2 separate regions of the Homo sapiens genome follow, and region 1 is linked to region 2. A link means that fine-mapping ties the variant in region 2 to the plasma level of a protein whose gene starts in the linked region. Region 2 holds a variant in brackets. A gene starts in the other region. All regions are shown on their reverse strands.

Region 1 (10,462 bases), not on the chromosome of region 2:
GACTATTGAGCCACTTACTCTTTTTTGGCTCCACATCAAGTGACCCACCACTGCCCTACTTTATGGGTTTATGTGTCTTGATTTTGCATCATATCATCAGCATGCCTGCCTCCAGTGATCCTGTGTGTCCTTTGGAATCCGAGGCACTCTGTGAACCTTGATGCATGAATGTAGTGATAGTAACTACTGGTTCAGAGTCTTTTCATCCTGATTGCTGGGCTCTTACCAGGTTTCACACGTCTGGGGGCTCCCCGCTGGTTAGCAAGGCAGCCACTAAGAACTCTCTGAATAGTCATTTTCCTTTCGGAAACTGCTTAAAGATGACTCGGGAGGACTTTTAAATGGAGAAATGTTCGTATGCTGAGATCCTGGCTGGTGACAGAAGGATGGAAGAAGTGATGCCTGAAGGTATATTCTAAATGGTTGTTGTGTCCCTGTAGTCAAAAGGTGTGTGGGCATGGTTTCTTATTTTAAACAGTTTTCTTAAATCAATAAACATTGGGTTATGAATCTCAGATATAGGATCTTTTTCAACTTTTAATCTGGACGACTTTGAATTAAAGAAAAAAAAGAACAACTGTTCCATTATAATTCATGTAAAATCAAGTCCAGGGCCATGAGGGGCCGAGATAAAGGGAACAACTAGAAGTAAGTGGAGGATATAATTTCTCAGAAAATTCTTATATTTTCTGTGCCTGGAAATGGTTTCAATACACATCATAAAAATGATATAAAACTCAATCAACAGAAGAACTTTTTGTTTCTTTATTTTCAATATTTGTCTTATTAATATTTTTCTTATTTTATAATGCAATTACAACAATTTAGGAGACAAAACAATATAAACAAAAGAATGTTAAATAGTTTTTTTTAAAAAATAGCTTGTTGCTTGCAAGAAAGTCCATATAATCTTATTCCCCCCCAAATATAATTTTATACTTTGCACTAAACCAAAATAGCTTATGGAAAATTAGTATTAAATAGCTAAACACAGAAAACCTACAGCTATAAATAACATAAAATACAGTTTAACTTTAATGTGATGCTTAAACAAAGCAAACTATGATGCAATATGAATCAACTTCATTAATTGGACAAGTCCAGTGAGGCACAAATTAGATAAGCACTAAACCCTCCATGATGTGCAAGTGAAACCTCCAACCCCAGCAAGGTTCTTTCTGTTCTTGGGCTATGTCCAATTCCATTCCAGAAAAGCCACAGTTTTTACATGTTCTTGACTTTTTTACTGTAAAATGAAAAAGAAGAAAAGTGTAAGTAATGACAAGGTGACTGCATGGTGGGAATGACTTTGGTACCTAAAGGTTGCTTCACCTGCCCTTAATCTCAACTCAGTATGTCAAGCAGCTCAGAGTTCAGATGAGGAAATTGAGGTTTAGAGAGGATGGCCCTTGCCCAACCTAACTCAGCTCATTAATGACAGAAACAGGCTATGGACACTTATCTTGTGTCTCCAAGTTCAGTATCTATGGCATGCTGGTGTTAGGTGCCTTCTGTCCATTGATAAAGTGTTACTGTCTATTATTGTCAACGTAAATCAGAACCATTGATCTCTGTTTAACTAATGTTCATTTTTCAGTTTTTAACAAACAACCAAATGCCAGATTGCCTTTAAATTATATAAATAGTAGGCATCTTTGCAACAAGAATCAGGCAGCTAGTAACTATCAAATGCATAGAGAAATCTAATACATCATGTAAGAAATCACTAAATTAAAATAATAATAACGATGATGATCTGTAAGTGGAAAAATGCATTCTTTGTTTTTGTGGTCCAACTCAAATTTTCCCTTTAAAAATTCCACAATAGTTAAACTAAAGAATCCCAGAAAACCTACGGCCCACCCCTTTGCACACTCCTCTTTCCTCAAACATTTGCAAAGGCTAAATGTCAGTGTAACATACCTGAGGAGACGCACAATATATTTCACCCAAGTCTGTTTTGGATTTGCGCACACAGACAACTTTTTCTTTGTGTGAAAGCTGAAAAATCAGAAAATTTGATTTGTGTTTAATGAGCTTTTCAATGGGTTTTTCATAGAACATACAATGGAAATTTTATATTCCAGTTGATTACACACTAAACATTTCAGTTGATGAGGTAAAATAAAATGCACAAAAAATGCTTCTGATGAAGATTAATGCAAAATCAAAGTGATTCTCTCTTTCTCTGCAATGTAACAAATAATAGTACAATGGCAGGAAGATAAAGTCCCAGAATTGTCATATAATTTTGCTATTGGTGGTTACATAGAATATGTATGTATCTGATCAATAACTTGTATAATTCCAAAATATAATATCCTATATAAATCAAGAAAATTATATGTGATAGTATAATTAGTCTGAGATTTTACTTTTGGTCTCAAACACTTTCTGGTAGAAGATGCTCATTTCGAAATGTGTATCTTCCCTATTTTCCTAATATATCACTTTAATAGCCTTAGAAAGTGATTTTTGCCCTATACTAGTTCCGTTTGACCAAAAAAAATTTTTAAAAAAGGTTTTGCCTTATTCCAGTCCTGTTTAAAGTGAACTTTAAAGTAGATATGTACTAAGACAAAGCTATCTTTGCCACATCATTTCTTTCTCTTTAAAATAAGATCTTATGTTCAAAACATCAGTAATTTCTGAATGAAACTCTAAAAAGGCAAACATTTTTAAAACTGAAGTTTCTAGGTATTCCTGATACAACTGAATTAAAATCAATTAATAACTTACATGATAGCATTGATGTCACAGCCTTCATTGGCCAGCTGCCGTGTGAAGCCCACAATAAATTTAGGATGAAGAATACGGTCTGTGTATCCAAGACAGCAGTCAAAGTTGCTTGCTGCTAAAAAAAAAAAAAAGTGAAAGGTATTGGATCCACATGAATAAACTTATCCTGTGATTGGTATTATAAAACTACCTTAAGTTGTGAAAAATCTAGTGAATCTCATGTATATGACGAATAAACCACTTAGAGGAGGAGTTTCAATGTCTTGGAAACCTTTGTAAGGTCGTTGAGAACCAATCTAACATAGTTTACAGTTCTTTGAAAAAACAGTTTGTGTGCCGAGAAGTTTTGGTTCAATAATAGAATTGAGAAACACAGGACTTCTCATAAGTGGGATATCTTCAGTAAGAAATACAAATTGACAATATTTCATTTCAGTTCACTATAATCATTCAAGAATATGAGCAGCCCCTTCCCTACTGCTTGAAGGAACCCTTATGTAGATAAACTTCCAAAAGCAGAAAATGAATAAATTGGCAGATTTTAATCTATTATCTGGCTACTAAGTATTGAGAAATAGAGCTACAAAGGGAAATATGATTTATAGGAGTGAAAACACTTTGAAATTGTCCTATTAATTAATAGGAATGTTTAATTTTGTTCATAAAAGTTCAACATGTGGTTGGGCATGGTGGCTCATGCCTGTAATCCCAGCACTTTGGGAGGCCAAGGAGGAAGGATTGCTTGCCTCCAGGAGTTCGAGACCAGCCTGGGCAACACAGTGAAACCCTGTCTCTACAAAAAAAAAAAAAATGTAAAAAAATTAGCCAGGTGAGTGGCACACGGCCGTGGTCCCTGTTATTCAAGAGGCTGAGACTGGAGGTTCACTTGACTCCAGGAGGTTGAGGCTGTAGTGAGCTGTAATCATGCCACTGCACTCTGGCCTGGGTGATGAAGTTAGACCCTGCCTCAGAAAAAAAAAAAAATTCAATGTGCATTTTTAGGAATGCACCTGTTGCTAAAAGTGTTGTGTGACTATTGAGCAATAAAGCAATACTTGGACATTCCCGAGTCAGATTACAACATGCTGTAAGGTAAGGGATTAATGTTATTTTAAAGTTGGCAAGCAATGTCCCCCATGCCTTGTGGGGATGTTGATGTCAGGTATTATAATCTACTTCTAAAGGATGAGTTTTGAACTTTACCAAAACTATTAAGTTGGGAGGTACGAAAGTTGGGGACACAGGAGGATTCTCTACATTTCAAAATGGCCCCATCTACTGGTAACATTACACACTTTATATCACTCCCAGAAACATCACTTTGGCTTTATCCTGAAGTTTAGGGATCTCTAAGAGCCCACCACTCCCCAAATCTGCTGAGATTGACAGCAGAGAGGAAAGCCTGATCCGCAGCAGTAACTCTTCTCTCCTCCACTCCACCATGGGCAGACAACTTCCATCACTACCTCTTGTATACTTCCTAACAGTTTTCCATCCCTTAGGGACCCCCAGTTGAGCTCAAGGCTAAAAGGAAAATGAAAATAGTCTTTCTTCTGTGCTAGCGGAAAGAGCGACACTTACCTTCTGATTCGCCGCAGAGGTGGAGTAGCAGCACTGACATCAAAGCAGCCAGGAGCAAACTCTTGGTACAGCACATGGTTTTTAGCTCAAAGAACAGATCTGCTCAGTGTTGAGTACCCAGTTCTTTGGGAGTGCTGTTATATTCTGACAGCAGCCTGGGATGGCCCTATTTATAGCAAATATTGGGAATGTACACAGAAGGCGTGTTGCCACATGGGGTTTTCCCCATTGATCAACTGGCCCCATCATGTCATCATAAAAAAAACCCGCAAGGAAAACTTCCTGCTTTTTCCTCATATTGGGAAGGTGCGAAGGTCAGGGTGGGGGACAGGAAGTTGAGAAGGGGAGAATCCTGTTAAATTCTTTGTATTTGCAAAGAGCAAAAGCAGCTCAGCCCTGTGACCCAGAAAAGACTTTCATCCAGTTTTAACTTAATCATTTTTGTGTCTGAAAATAGAGGATTAACAGCGATACAAAGGTCAGCCCCACACAGGAACATTCCAGAACTCCTATTGTTACACCCTATTTGCTTTCCAGAACCAGTCAAGGAGGAGGGGGAGGAGGAGCAGGTGGGATGCCAGGCATACTCTGCTACACATTTACCATCACATGGTTGAGGTTCAGCTGTCATGAAGAAGACCCTGAGTTGCTAGACTAACATTCAGAGCAGGTACTATAACAGTGCTACAGTACTGTCCGCAGTTAGAGTGGAAAATATCAGCCTTTAAGTAAGGCTCAAACCTCAGCTTCACCTTGATTTAATGTCAACTCTTCTAAGAATCTTATACATTCACATGGCTTTAATCAATATTGCAGTTCAGAAAATAATCCTTACCTACCTTTAACTCTCCATGATGATGTACTAATATAACTCAATATAGAGCCTCAGAATTGTTGAGGAAAGAAAACCTATCAGCAGTAGCTAGTCAGCACAGCAAATGTCAAATAACAGTACTAATGATGATAATGTAATATGAATCCCTAACCTAAGGCAGTATAAGAACTCTCCACTAGACCCAAATAGGTTGAAAGTAAAAGGATCAAAAGAAAGGTATACCAAACAGTAAACAAAAGAGAACTGGAGTTGGTGATGCCTATATCAGACAAAATAGATTTTTTTTTAATGTTACCGGAAATAAAAAGGGACTTTCATGGTAACACAAAATTAACCCATTGGGAAGATGTAAAACCTATAACCATATATATACCTAACAGTAGCACCCCAAACTACAGAAAGCAAAAACTGACAGAATTGAAGGGAAGAATAGGAAATTTTATTTTATTTTATTATTATAATTTCTTTTGAGACAGAATTTTGCTCTTGTTGCCCAGGCTGGAGTGCAGTGGCACCATCTCGGCTCACTACAACCTCCGCCTCCTGGGTTCAAGCGATTCGCCTGCCTCAGCCTCCTGAGTAGCTGGGACTACAGGCACGTGCCACCACGCCCAGCGAATTTTTGTATTTTTAGTAGAGACGTGGTTTCACCATGTTGCCCAGGCTGAACTCCTGACCTCATTACAGGCATGAGCCACCGTGCCCAGCAGAATAGGAAATTTAACAATAAAAGTTGACAGCTTTGGTACCACATTTTCACTAATTAATAAAATTTAGGCAGAAGATCCACAAGAAAATAGAAGACTTGAACAACACTATAAGCCAAATAGACTTAGCAGGCATCGAAGGACTACTCTATCCAACATCAACAGAATAGTTGCACATGGAATGTTCTCTAGGATAAAGCATATGGTAGGTTATGGAACAAGTCTCAGTAAATGTAAACCGACTGAAATCACATAAAGTATACATTCAAACCACAATGGAATTAAATCAGAAATCAGTAACAGACAGAAAGGAAACCACATATTCCTAAATAACCAATGTGTCTGGCCAGGAGTGGTGGCTCATGCCTGTAATCCTAGCATTTTGGGAGGCCGAGGTGGGTGGACTGCCTGAGGTCAGGAGTTCGAGACCAGACTGGCCAACATAGTGAAACCCTGTCTCTACTAAAAATACAAATATTAGCCGGGTGTGGTAGTCCATGCCTGTAATCCCAGCTACTTGGGAGGCTGAGGCAGGAGAATCGCATGAGCCCAGGAAGCAGAAGTTACGGCGAGCCGAGATCACGCTACTGCCCTCTAACCTGGCCAACAGAGACTCCATCTCAAAGGAAAAAACAACAACAACAACAACAATGTGTCAAAAGAAAAGTCACTAGAGAAAGTAGAAAACAACTTTGAAATGTAAAAAAAAGTCCACAACATATCAAAACTTATAGGATGTAGCAAAAGCAGTCCTCAGAAGGAAACTTATAGCTGTAAACACTCACATTAAAAAAAAAAAAAAAGAAACATCTCAAAACAATAACCCAAACTTCTACCTTAAGAAACTAGAGAAAAGCAGAGCAAGCTAAACCCAAAGCATGCAGAAGGAGGGAAATGAAGATTAGAGCAGGAATAAATAAAACAGAGAATGCAAAACAATAGAGGAAATCAACGAATGCGAAAGTTAGTTCTTTGAGAAGATCAACAAAACTAACAAGCCTTGACTAGACCAAACCAAACAAAGGAAAGGGAGGTAAAAAAAAAAAAAAAAAAAAAAAAACTGTATGCAAATAAAATTACTATGCCGACAGCACAGTAAAAAGATCATACACCATAACCAAGTGGGATTTATTCCAGGAAATGTAATACAACAAATCAATCAAATAAAAAATAAAAATGATTTGAAAAGCAACTGACAAAATCCAACACGTTGTCATGACAAAAACACTCAACTAACTAGGAATAGTTGAGAACTTTCTCAACCTGATAAAAGTCATCTATGACCACCTCACAGCTGATACGAATAGAGATGAAAGACACAAATTATTGACCCTGATTCAAGAAGAAAATAGAAAATTTGGGATGGGCGTGGTGGCTCATGCCTGTAATCCCAGCACTTTGGGAGGCCAAGGCGGAAGGAGCACAAGGTCAGGAGATCGAGACCATCCTGGCTAACATGGTGAAACCCTGTCTCTACTAAAAATGCAAAAAATTAGCCTGGTGTGGTAGCGGGCACCTGTGATCCCAGCTACTAGGGAGGCTGAGGCAGGAGAATGGCGTGAACCCGGGAGGTAGAGGTTGCAGTGAACCAAGATCGTGTCATTGTACTCCAGCCTGGGCGACACAGCAAGACTCCATCTCAAAAAAAAAATAGAAAATTTGAATAGAGCTATAACAAGTAAAGATATCAAATTGATAACCAAATATTTTTCACAAATAAAACCTCAGGACCAGATTAATTCACTGGTTAATTCTACAAAACATTCAAATAAGAATTAATACCAGTTCTTCACAAACTTTTTCAAAGTATAGAAGAGAAGGGAACCCTCTTCAACTTCTTCTATGAGGACAGTATTATCCTGACACCAAAATAAGATAAACACATCACAAGAAAAGAAAACAACAGACCAATGTCCTTTCCGAATACAAACACAAAAACAAAACAACATAGTAAAAGGACCATACACCATAACAAGTGGGATTTATTCCAGGAAATGTAATACTACAAATTAATTGAATAAAAATAAAAACTATATGAAAAGTAACTAACAAAATCCAGCACCTTCTCATGACAAAACACTCAACAAACTAGGAATAGCAGAGAACATCTCAACCTGATAAAGGTCATCTATGACTGCCTCATAGCTGATAGCACACTCAATGTTGAAAGACTTACTGCCTTTTCCCTGAGATCAAGGACAAGACAAGGATGTTCAGTCTCACCGCTTCTATTCAACACAATTTCTTTTCTTTTCCTCTCTCTCTCTCTCTTTTTTGAGATGGAGTTTCACTCTTGTTGCCCGGGCTGGAGTGCAATGGCGCAATCTCGGCTCACTGCAACCTCTGCCTCCCAGGTTCAGCCAATTCTCCTGCCTCAGCCTCCCAAGTAGTTGGAACTACAATCATGCACCATCACACCTTGCTAATTTTGTATTTTTAGTAGAGACAGGGTGTCGCCATGTTGGCCAGTCTGGTCTTGAACTCCTGACCTCAGGTGCTCCGCCCACCTCAGACTCCTAAAGTGTTGAGATTACAGGTGTGAGCCACCATGCCCGGCCTATTTAACACAATTTCTATTAAAATCCTGGCTGGCTTCTTTGTAGAAATGGAAAAGCCAATACTCAAATTCATGTGAAATTGCAAGGGACCTTGAATTGATAAAACAATCCCAAAAAGGAAGAATAAAGTTGGAAGACTCACACTTTCTGATTTCAAAATTTACTAAAAAATCACACTAAATCAAGACATGTGAAAATTGCATGAGTGTTCACATCAATGGCATACAATTGAGAAATAAGCCCCCATGTCTATGGTCAACTGATTTTGTGTTAGGGTGGCAAGACCATTCAATGGGGGAAGAACAGTCTTTTCAACAAATAGTGCTGGAACTACTGGATATTCACAGCAAAAGAATAAAGTTAGACCATTACTTCACACTATATATAAAAATTAATTCAAAATGGATCATAGATCTCAATGTAAGAGTTAAAAACATGAAATTCTTAGAAGAAAACATAGGAGAAAATCTTCATGACCTTGGGTTGGGCAATGACTTGTTAGATACAACACCAAAAGCTCAAACAATAAAATTAAAAATTAACGAACTGGACCAAATCAAAACTAAACATTTTTATGCTTCAAAGGACACTATAAAGAATGTGAAAAGAAAACGCATAGAAAGGAAAGGAAAAATTTGCAAGTCATATATATGATAAGGGACATTTACTTGTATAGAGAATATATAAAGAACTCTTACAACTCAATAAGAAGAAGATGAGTGACCCAATTAAAAAATGAGGAAAACAGCTGAATAGACATTTCTCCTAAGAAGATAAATAAATGTCCAACAAGCACATAAAAAGATGCTCAAAATTTTTAGTAAGTAGGAAAATGCAAATCAAAACCACCATGACATACCACTTCACATCCACTAGGATAGCTATAACCAAAAAGACAAATAATAAGTGTTGGCAATGATGTAGAGAAATTGGAATCCTTATATGTTGTTGATGGAAATAAAAAAATGGTGCAGTCATTTTGGAAGACACTTTGACAATTCCTCAAATAGTTAATTAGAGAGTTACCATGTGACCCAGCAATTCTACTCCCAGGTTTACACCCAACAGAAATGAAAATATATGTCCACACAAAAATGTGTACGTGAATGTTTGTAGCAGCATTATTCATAATAGCCAAAAAAGTAGAAGCAGCCCAAAAGTTATAAACTGATATATAAATAAATTAAACCTGGCAAATCAATACAACGAAATATTATTCAGCAATAAGATACTGATAGAAACTACAAAATGAAGCTGGGCATGGTGGCTCACACCTGTAATCCCAGCACTTTGGGAGGCCAAGGAAGACGGATCACTTGAGGTCAGGAGTTTGAGACCAGCCTGGCCAACATGACAGAACCCCATCTCTACTAAAAATACAAAAATTAGCCAGGAGTGGTGGCTTGCACCTGTAATCTCAGCTACTTGGGAAGCTGAGGCAGGAGAATTGCTTGAACCTGGGAGGTGAAGGTTGCAGTGAGCCAAGATCGTGCCACTGTACTCCAGCCTGGGTGACAGAGTGGGACTCTTTCTCCAAAAGAAAAAAGAAACTACAAAACGGATGAACCTTGAAAACACTATGCTAAGTGGAAAAGCCAAGCACAAAAGACCACATATTGTCTGATTCCATTTACATAAAATGTTCAGAAATGGTGAATCTATGGAGAGGAGAAGTAGAATAGTGACTGCCTAGGGCTGGGTTGTGGTGTCCAGGGAAGGGAAGGGGATTGGGGAGTGACTGCTAAGGGGTATGTGGTTTGTTTTTTATTTTTTATTTATAAATACATATGGTTGATGGTTGCACAACCCTATAAATATACTAAAAACACACTGAATTGTTTACATAAAAAGGGTCATTTTATGGTAGGTCAATTATATCTCAATAAAGCTGATAACAAAACAAAACAAAAAAGGAACTCTCCATGTACCTACATCTTAACACGCACCCCAGCCCATGGATGCTTTTTCTTTCTTTACGACTACTCTTGGTTCCCTATAGTCTGTGTTCATTTCTCCTTCCTCCATTCCTGTTGTCTCTTCTC
Region 2 (9,481 bases):
TCCTGTTTTGGGGGGCTGTCTTGGGAATTCAGCTGTAAAGAGAAGTGGGGGCAGGAAGTTGGGAGTCAGTCCCTCATTAGGCTCCCTGGTCCTCAGCCTTGGTGAGGTGGCTCCGTTGGGGCCGTGCCCAGGGAAGCCAGGTCACAAGAACAGAATGCGGCTCAGCATGTGACCTCAAAGGCAGGCTGGTGTGCCAGGAACAAGTGGGGCCTGGGAATCGGCTTCCTGTAACCCAGTTGCCACCCCCCGCATGGCTGGCCTACCTCCTCGCTGGTGTCACTGGAGGCGGATCTCACCAGGGCTGGCCTGGGGCTCTCCAAGGCTGCCTCTGCCAGGGCTTCACGACTGTTCTCCTGGCAGAGAGGAGAGGGTTGTGGGTTGTCAGAGGATGGGGTGAGGGGGTCCTGAGGAGGGAGGGAGCTCCTGGGGAAGTAGGGGCCTCAGACTGAGAAGAGGTAGCACTGATGCCCTGGCCACCCACCCCTGGTTCCCACCTCCTGAGCCTGCTGGGGCTCCTTTTTACATTCCTTTGGGGATCAGAGGGCAGGCTGGTTCTACTGCTCAGGCTGGAGGGATGGGATGGGAACAGACCATCATGGGATTAGCTGAACCGCTCCCTCTCCCTGGGCCACTCCAATGTGGCTTTTAGGTACTGGCTTGCCTTTTGGGCCAGTGACCAGGGAGGGGCTTCTTGGAATGTGGGGACACATGGGGGCATGGGGAGCCCATGTGGTGCTCCCTGAATCTCATGTGGTCCACCTGACTGTTTGCCAGGATTTGACCCCAGGAATCCTGAAACCCTAACCCTGAAGCAGCAAAGGAGGGCCTTGAAAGAAGAAGGTGGATGGAAAGTTCTAGATCCAAAGATGAGGTGAAAGAAGGTTGAGGGCTGGGTCCAAGGGCCCTCCCCCTTGCCAAGTACCCTGGCAGGAGCTCCTAGGGAAGGGGAACCTTTAAGCAGACCCTGCAGAGTTCCTGCTCTGTGGCCTGACTGAGTCGGCCTGTCCCAGAGCGAAGGCTTTGGCTGGGGCGTCAGCTTGGCACCCAGCCCCTTCCTGGGTTCCTCCATGGCTTCAGCTGGCGCCCAGCCCCACCATCTCTTCCCCGGGCCTCACCCCCTTTCCCTTCTGCCCAGGGAAGGGGGGAGGAGGGGCTTTGTTCTTCCAACCCAGACTAGAAGTAGCAGGGGCCCGGCTGCCCGTGGCCAGACACTGAAGCTCTGTTCTTGGGGGGAAGAATGGCCCCTTCTGTATGGTGGGGAGTTGGAGGCGGGGGCTTGTCACCCAGGATGGCGGGCTGCAGAGGGGCCCAGCCAGCCCGCTCCCTCCTGACAGCTTTGGCCCCAGGCAGAGGCCAAGAGGGTTCTGGCAGTTCTATAGCTTGGAGCTGAAGAAGGAGCTGGAACTGGGGACCCTGGGGTTTTGGCCTTAGTCAGATGGCTATCCTACCAACCACAGCACCTTCTGATCTGTCTCATGCACCCCAAGGATTGAAATCCAAAGAGACAGGGGACCCGCCCTTACCTTCTGTATCTCCCCATTGGTGAAGGGCACAGGCAGGGGACCTAGGCAAAGGACAGAGCAGAGGTGAGTCCAGAACGGGGATGGAATAGAGCGTGGAGAGGAGGTAGGAGTTGGGTTTGGGCAGATTATTAGATCTTGTTCCCTGGGTCAACATCTCAAACTTTTTTGACTACCACCCACCATGAATACATTTGCCTTATTTATTTAAAAAAAATTTTTTTTTTATAGAGATGGGGCCTTGCCATGTCATGCAGGATGGTCTCAAACTCCTAGCCCCAAGCAATCCTTCCACCTTGGCCTCCCAAAGTGTTGGGATTACAGGTGTGAGCAAATGTCTGGCCTACGTTTGCCATTTTGATGACTCAGCACACACAAAGATTTTGTGTGATAAAAGTTTCACAAAGCAACACCCTTACTACAGTGTTCTTTGATATTTTTAATTTCATTTCATTAAAAAAAACAAAAAAATGTCTGGGCCAGGCATAGTGGCTCACACCAGTAATCCCAGCACTTTGGGAGGCCGAGGCACCTGGATCACTTGAGGTTAGGAGTTTGAGACCAGCCTGGCCAACATGGTGAAACCCCGTCTCTACTAAAAAAGACAAAAAGAAAATTAGCTGGGCATGGTGGCACACGCCTGTAATCCTAGCTACTTGGGAGGCTGAGGTGGGAAAATTGTTTGAACCCAGAAGGTGGAGGTTGCAGTGAGCCGAGATCACGCCACTACACTCCAGCCTGGGCAACACAGCAAGACTCTGGCAAAACAAAACAAAACAAAACAAAACAAAAAAAACAAACCAAAAAACCTGCTGGTCTCTATCTACTAAATTGATCTTATGAGGCACTGATGGGTCACAAGGTGTTTAAAAAATGTATTGTCTCAGATGGGGATGAAATTCGAGGATGGCTGCCTAATTCCTACCTGGGAATTCCTACCTGGGAACTCCTACGTGGGAAGCTTGTTAAAGTACAGATTCCTGGACCTTGGCAGCACAGATTCTGGTTTAGTGGGCAGGCCTAAGAATCAACATTTTCCAAACGCTTCCCAGGTGATGATGATGACACCAAAATTGGAACCACACCCCAGACTATAGTTAGTACCTGCCTCAACTGAAAGAGAAAATAGTCTGGGCTCGGTGGCTCATGACTGGGACCCCAGCACTTTGGGAGACTGTGGCAGGCGGATCACCTGAGGTCAGGAGTTCAAGACCAGCCTGGCCAACATGGCGAAACCCTATCCCTACTAAAAATACAAAAATTAGCCGGGCATGGTGGCAGGCGCCTGTAATCCCAGCTACTCAGGAGGCTGAGGCAGGAGAATTGCTTGAACCCAGGAGGTGGAGGTTGCAGTGAGCCAAGATTGTGCCATTGCACTCTAGCCTGGGTGACAGAGACTGTGTCCGGAAAAAAAAAAAAAAAGGCCAGGCGCGGTGGCTCACACTTGTAATCGCAGTACTTTGGGAGGCCGAGGTGGGCGGATCACAAGGTCAAGAGATCGAGACCATCCTGGCCAACATAGTGAAACCCCATCTCTACTAAAAATATAAAAATTTGCTGGGCGTGGTGGCGCATGGCTGTAGTCCCGGCTACTCAGGAGACTGAGGCAGAAGAATCACTTGAATCTAGGGGCAGATGTTGCTGTGAGCCGAGATCGCACCACTGCACTCCAGCCTGGGTGACAGAGCAGGACTCCATCTCAAAAAAAAGAAAAAGAAAAAGAAAAAAAGAGAAAATAATCCCAACTCCTATTTGCCAATCAGGAAATGAGGGGGGACGAGAAGGCTCAAGGGGTGTGTCCTGGGTATCCCCTCCCCCAGCCAGTGGGAAACCTGGAGGGGTCAGAGGGAGAGAAGACAGGTCTGGGGTCACCTTCACTGGGCTCACTCAGGGTAGGGGTCCCACATGGCTTCAGGGGTGGCT[G/C]TTCCATCTCCAGGGACTGGTCAGTGTAGGGCTTCTTCTGAACTCTTAGCTTAAAATTCCTGGTTATCTTTTCCCTGTCCCCAGTCCAGGACACAGCCAGAGATACCTGACTCTCATCTTCTCCTCCCTTTTGACACCCACAGCCTTCCCCGGGCAAGGACAGGCTGCTGGGACACAGGGTCACTCACTGTCCCCTCCCCATCAGCTCACAGTGGTCAGGGTGAAACCCTGGCAGCCGGAGAGGGGGGCATTCCTCCCTATGGAAAGGGTGAGGATGCCATCCTGGAGGGACTGCGGGGAGGGGACTGTCCCCAGGCCTCTCCCTCTTCAGGTCCTTTGGCCAGAGGCTGCAGCCCCTCTAGCCCGAGAGACAGGCAGAAGAGGGAGGAATGTCTGAGGGGGCCAATTACCTGCAGGGTGAAGGGGTGGGGGAAGCAGGGGACAGTATCCCAGGAGCTGAGTGGAATCCAGATTCCAGCTGTGTCTTCCTCGTATCAGATCCCTAGGAGGAAGGCTGGGGCTTCTCTGGGCCTTAGTCTCCCCCTCAGTGGAGAAGGGGATTATCTGAGTTACCTGGTTTCCATGAACTTGGGAGATAAGGGTAAGGCGGTACCCCACCTCCCATGCCCAGAGCCAGCTAGGGACTTCCAGGGGCCATCCCCTCTTCTAGGAGCCTCAGGCCTTGGATTGCGCCAGAAGGGGACAGGGCCTCCCCAGTGGGCCCTTGCAGCTGGCGATGGGAGTCGCAGGACCTTTGTGTGAATCTCCTTTTACACATACAACCTTGAGTCTCCAGGAGGCCCCACCCACTGCAAAGTCCCAAGAGGTTCCACCCTCAGTATGGCCCAGTGAGCACCCCTGCCCGCTCCAGGGAGCCATCTTCCCAGGGAGAAAGTCCAGACCAAGGAGCAGAGCATGCTTAACCCCTCCCTGCCCCGGTGCAGCAGCCCTGCCCTGTTTGGCTCGGGCCTGGGCAGGGGGAGGCGCCAGGCTTGGCAGGGTGATGGTGGGGGATGGGGAGGGCAGGGGCCCAGGGATTGAAGGGGGACCCACTACTCTCTAGAGCCAGCAAGGCTGAGTTTCCAAGACAACCTGAGAGGAGGGAGGGGGAGGCACCGGCCCCCGTCACTGGACTCTGATCTGACCAAGCAAAGGCTGGAGGCCTCCCCGGAGTTAACCCTTTCCTCACATTGACACTGCCCTGAAAGTCTGCTGGTGGGGACAGGACTGGGGGCTTGGGCCTCCTTTGGGGCTGCAGCTTTGGCCGGGAATAAGAAGATCTGTCCATCTCTCTCACCGACCTCATGCCAGCTGACCCCATCACAAGCCGTCCTCAGAAACCCACTGCCACTCCCTACACTAGGCCCCCGCTCCCCCAGCCCACACCTCTGGGCCTCCCATGAAGGAGGAGGAGGGAGCACCCATGCCGGGAAGCTGCCCACCCCTCGCCTGGGACCCAGCAGTCTTAGCCCTGGCTCACATCCCTGACTTGGGGGGCTCCAGCCCCAGGACGGCCAGTGGCCCCACCTGGCTTACCATTCAGGTGCTCCTGAGATGGGATCACTCTGCATTTCTTGAAGAACTCGTCAGTTTCCCTGTCCACCACCAGCAGCTTGGTCTCGTCCCCGCCAGCCCTGATGGCGGACACCACGTCCCCATGCTGCTTCCCCTCCATGCAGACCCCGTTCACCTGCAGGGCAGGGTCGGGGAGGCGTTACGGACACAGGCCTTGGTTCTGGGGCAGGTAAGTGGAGGGGGGTTGGGGGCAGGGGTGACCACCTTGGTTCTCAGCCAGTTTGCAGTTCACAACCTGGGGATACTGACCCCCGCCATTTCTGCAGAGTCCTGAACTAGGCTGGGGGTCCTCCCATTGACAGTCAGCTGGGGAGGCAGGATACATGGGAAGGGCCAACGAAAATATCCAGACGAGACTAAACAAACACAGCTGGGAGAGATGGGATGGGAGCGAGCTGGGAGGCCGGGGTGGGGCCCAGCCTGGGTAAGGACTTGCTGTCCGACTTCCTTCTCTGGGCCTTGGTTTTCTCACGTGTAAAATGAGAAGTCTTGGGAGAGCTGATCTCTAGCTCTAAGGTTCTAAGACTGTGATTCTGGGACCTGCCTGAGCATTTGGTTCACGTTTCCTCTCCCAGGAGCACAGCACCAGAGCCCTGAATGCACGAGTCTAAAAGCCTAACTCGGGGCCGGGTGAGGTGGCTCACGCCTGGAATCCCAGCACTTTGGGAGGCCGAGGCGGGCAGATCACTTGAGGTCAGGAGTTTGAGACCAGCCTGGCCAACATGGTGAAATCCTGTCTCTACTAAAAATGCAAACATTAGCCAGGCGTGGTGGTGGGCACCTGTAATCCCAGCTACTCAGGAGGCTGAGGCAGGAGAATCGCTTGAACCCAGGAGGCGGAGGTTGCAGTGAGCTGGGATTGTGCCACTGCACTCCCCCAGCCTGGGCAACAAAGCGAGACTCCATTTAAAAAAAAAAAAACTAAATAAATAAAGGCCTAACTCAGGAGAGGGGTTTTGTTACTGCCACCCCACTCTGTGTGCCTGGCAGCAGGGAAGCTCTGGAGATGGCCCCAGACATCTCCCTGATCGATGGGTGAATCACAGGCTGCCCACTGTATCTGCTTGGCAAGGAGGAGTCCAGGGGAGTGGAGGTAAGAGAAGAGTCCATCAGTCAGTCCATCTGTCCTTCCGTCTATCCATCCACCACCCTTCCCTCCCTCCCTCCCATCCACCCATCCATCCAGCAGCTCCAGGTTGGCTATGCCCGTGGGCTAATCAAGCCCATGATGGTATGATGGCTGCCCCAGGTGCTGCTGATCTGCAGGGGGTGGGGGCAGTCAGATAGGAAGAGAGCGAGAAGCATCACCTCCACAATGCGATCCTGGGCCCGGAGCCCTGAAGCCTCAGCCGGGGAGTCTGGGTCCACTGACCGGATGAACTGGCCTGGCTTGGACTTGTCGCTGTGCAGGTTGAAGCCATAGCCACTGGGGCCCTTCTTCATGGTACAGAGCCGAGGCCGAAGCTCGCGCTGCAGGGACAGGGGAGGGTCCATGGCTATTCCACAGTGCCCCAGGTTCTGCCTTCCCTGTCCTCTGCCTGTCCCCATCTCCCCAACCAAGGAAGGTTTGGGAGGATGCAAATTTGCCTAGATCCCTACACAGCAATTTGAGAGGGTTCTGGCCCAGGACTCAAAAGACTTGTGTGGATACCCAGCACCGCAGCTAACTGCTTAGGTGATGTGGATAAAACACTGCTCTGTCCAAGCCTCAGTTTCCTCTTCTGCCAAATGAGGGGTAGGACCAGGTTAGCTCTCACATGCCTGTCCCTTCTGACAGTCTAAGGTGAATCACATGCTGTGTTGATCGGGCCTCTATCCCTCCCCATTGGTGGCTCAGTCTGGCCCTCCTGGAGAGGGGGCAGAGTGTGGCACCCGTCAGCCTGGCTGGGGACCTGGGGCATATGACTGAGGACCCCCAGCCCCTTTGTACCCCGTTCTCTGCAGCAGGGGAGGAAGAGGCAGGTGTTTACTGAAAGCTGGTCAGTGTGTTTACAGTAAAGCCTTCCTCCATATACTCGAACTCTCTCTCACCCCCACCAAGCCGAATGGCCCAGCCAAAAGGGAGCCAGAAGGAGCAGATAACCAAAAACTTATTGTTCAGCACAGCAAGGGGACCTGGACAAGACGGGGCCATCCTCAGGCGTTCCAGGACCTCCTCCCCCGACACCGCTGCCCAAGGGCAGAGGTGGCAACGGAAGCACAGAGACCCCAGAAACAGAGGAGCCTGAATGGGGAGGGGACTGGGAAAAGCAGGGCTGGGCTAAAGGGAGCCCAGTGTGGCTGTGGCCTGGAGGGTGTGACCTACTAAAAGGGCACACGCAGATTTCGAGTGCTTGGACTCAGCTGAAAACAGTTTCCAACATGCTTGGTCCAAAGTAAGCAGCTCAGCTTAGAAGCTGCAGGCCTGGACACACAGTATGATGGAGGGAATATGGGTGTAGGCAGCCGAAGCCTGTGCCCAAGGACTACGCCTGAGTCCCTGTCCCTCTCCCCCTCCTCCAGGCCTGGTGCAGGGCCACTGGCTGCTGTCCAGCCTGCTGGCCCTGTGTTATCACTCAGCACATCAGACAATGAGCAGTGGATAGTCAAGGCTCCCAGCCAGGTTCCAGCTCCCCTGTTTAGGAGCTGTGTGACCTGGGGCAGGTCATTTATGGATCATTCTGACTGCCATCTGCCTCCCAGGGTTGCTGAGGCCCAGTGAGGTCATTGACTTAAACACTTTCTAACTGTAAAAAATCCCTGTGCACACCCAGACTTTCCCATTGTTGTGAATACTAATGAATAGTCATAGGAAGCTGGGAGTGAGATTCTGGTGGGGTGGGGGTGTGTGTGCCAGGCTGCTCTGAAACCCAAATCCCCAGCTGGGAGTGGAGAGGGCCGAGAGGGGTGGGAAGGCGCGCCCAGGAGGGCTTATGGGCCTCTGTCCCAACTTGCCAGCCCCAGGAGGCCGCCACCATCTGCAGGAGACTCAATCCCCAGCCTTTCGATCTCTGGGGGTGGCTAGAGGATGACTTTGCATTCCTTTAAAGGCTTGGGCAGGTCTTTCTTGCCTGGGTTTTCATACCCAAATCCAGGCTCGAGGACCCCTCACCCCAACAACAAAGACGGTTAAGTGAGTGGTAAAAACGTGAGTGGCTCACAAAGGCTCAGGAACCCTGAATGAAGCTCCTCTTGCCTTGTTCTCCCTGGCCCACCCCCTGCCTCACTGCAGGGCCCACTCCCAGCTAGTTCGGCTGTCACCTGCCCCAGGCTCACCCCCCGGCACTCCCACAGCCCTGTGGGATCTTGTTCCGGGAGTAAGTGAGGCTCTTCTCCCCTAGAGCTAATCCCTCCACAAAGCTCCCAGCCAGGCCCTCCCCCGGGCCGCCTAGGTGAGCAGAAACAAGTCTGACCAGTCGCCGTCACCAGGACAGGCGCAGCTTTCTGCTTCAGCCAGACACCCTGAGAAAGTGGGGAGGGTGAAATCTCAGGACAGGCAGGGGGCAGCTCTAGTGACCTCCTCCAACCTCCCTCCACCGTCCCTGCGCTCCCAAAAACCTTCCCATAACAACCTGACTGGGGCTTGTCAGCTGTTTTTGAGATGGGGAAACTGAGGCTCAGAGATGTGGAGCCCACTGCCTGACATCACACAGCCAGAACTCCAACCCTGGTCTCTGACTTGGAACCTGTCCTCCTTCCACCACACTGCAGGGTGCTCCTTAAGGATCCAAGTCCAGAATGGGGCAACCCATTGGGAGGTGAGGACCCAACAGGAGTCAGGCAGCAGAGGGCAGACAGGGGCTCTCTCCAGGGCATCGGCTGCAGCCTCTGCTGGAGGTAGGCTGGGAGCTGAAGAAACCACAACCTACCACAGCCTTCCTTCCGGGCGCTCAGGGCCTCTCGCAGCTGGAGCTGCAGCCTGAGCTGGGGGATGAAGCCTGGTGTGGGTGACAGGGCAGGGGCATGGCTGGACTGGGGGCAGGTGGCTCTGGGCGCCCCCCCCGGCTGGCAGGGCAGGGCTGTGCTAGCTGCCTTTGGGATGCCCATCCTCTGGCCCTGGTCTCTGTGCTGTGGGCTTCCCTTACTGATCTTCAGCCCAGTGCCCCTCGCCTAGTGACATATGGTGCCAAAGCTCCAGGGCCTGCTTTGAGCCTTGCTCCGCTCTGCCAGCACCAAGTCGTGCAGTTCAAGGGGAAACAGGGTACCCAGCCTGAGGGGCTCAGGTGCCCTCTGTTTCCTTCCCCTGCACTGGGACCTGCTCCACTGTTCTGTCTAGATGTGGCTCTGTGGCGGCTCCAGGACCTGAGGGGGTGGCTGGACAAGGAGATGGGAAGCCCCCGGTAGACCCCACCAGCATTTAGACAGCTCCGATGCACCTGCAGAGCCTCCTTCCCAAGTCCCTAGAGACTTCCTCCCCTCACATGGGAAGGGGGGTTCCCACTCTTCAAGGGAGACCAGCCTTGTTCCTCCTCACCCCTCCCTAG

Direction of the effects. Positions count from the first base shown, and alleles are read on the strand shown. Strength reflects both the effect of a copy and how common the allele is.
As copies of C replace G in region 2, the plasma level of the protein whose gene starts at base 4,466 in region 1 goes up (weak association).

The links. A credible set is the group of variants that fine-mapping cannot tell apart. PIP is the chance, under the fine-mapping model, that this variant and not a neighbour inherited with it causes the effect. Protein levels are from antibody-based Olink assays in UK Biobank. Linkage for the fine-mapping came from a reference panel and not from the study's own genotypes, which makes the PIPs less certain.
Region 1: CCL20 starts here. The variant in region 2 is the best candidate, but not a certain one, in a credible set for the plasma level of the CCL20 protein (UK Biobank, PIP 0.82).

The regions. Positions count from the first base shown.
Region 1 is chr2:227,807,846-227,818,307 of GRCh38, reverse strand. CCL20 (C-C motif chemokine ligand 20) reads right to left here and starts at 4,466. Exons shown (of 4, transcript NM_004591.3): 1 at 4,321-4,466; 2 at 2,740-2,854; 3 at 1,924-2,001; 4 at 752-1,246. The coding sequence starts at 4,396. The coding sequence ends at 1,225. RefSeq lists an enhancer at 1-529.
Region 2 is chr17:74,759,019-74,768,499 of GRCh38, reverse strand. NHERF1 (NHERF family PDZ scaffold protein 1) reads right to left here. Exons shown (of 6, transcript NM_004252.5): 2 at 6,327-6,488; 3 at 4,980-5,133; 4 at 1,524-1,564; 5 at 264-353; 6 at 1-32. Among named protein-coding and RNA genes, the nearest start is that of NAT9, 13 kb to the left of the region's middle. RefSeq lists enhancers at 4,761-5,512, 8,165-8,912, 8,913-9,481. The variant G/C (reference allele first, on the strand shown) is at 3,444.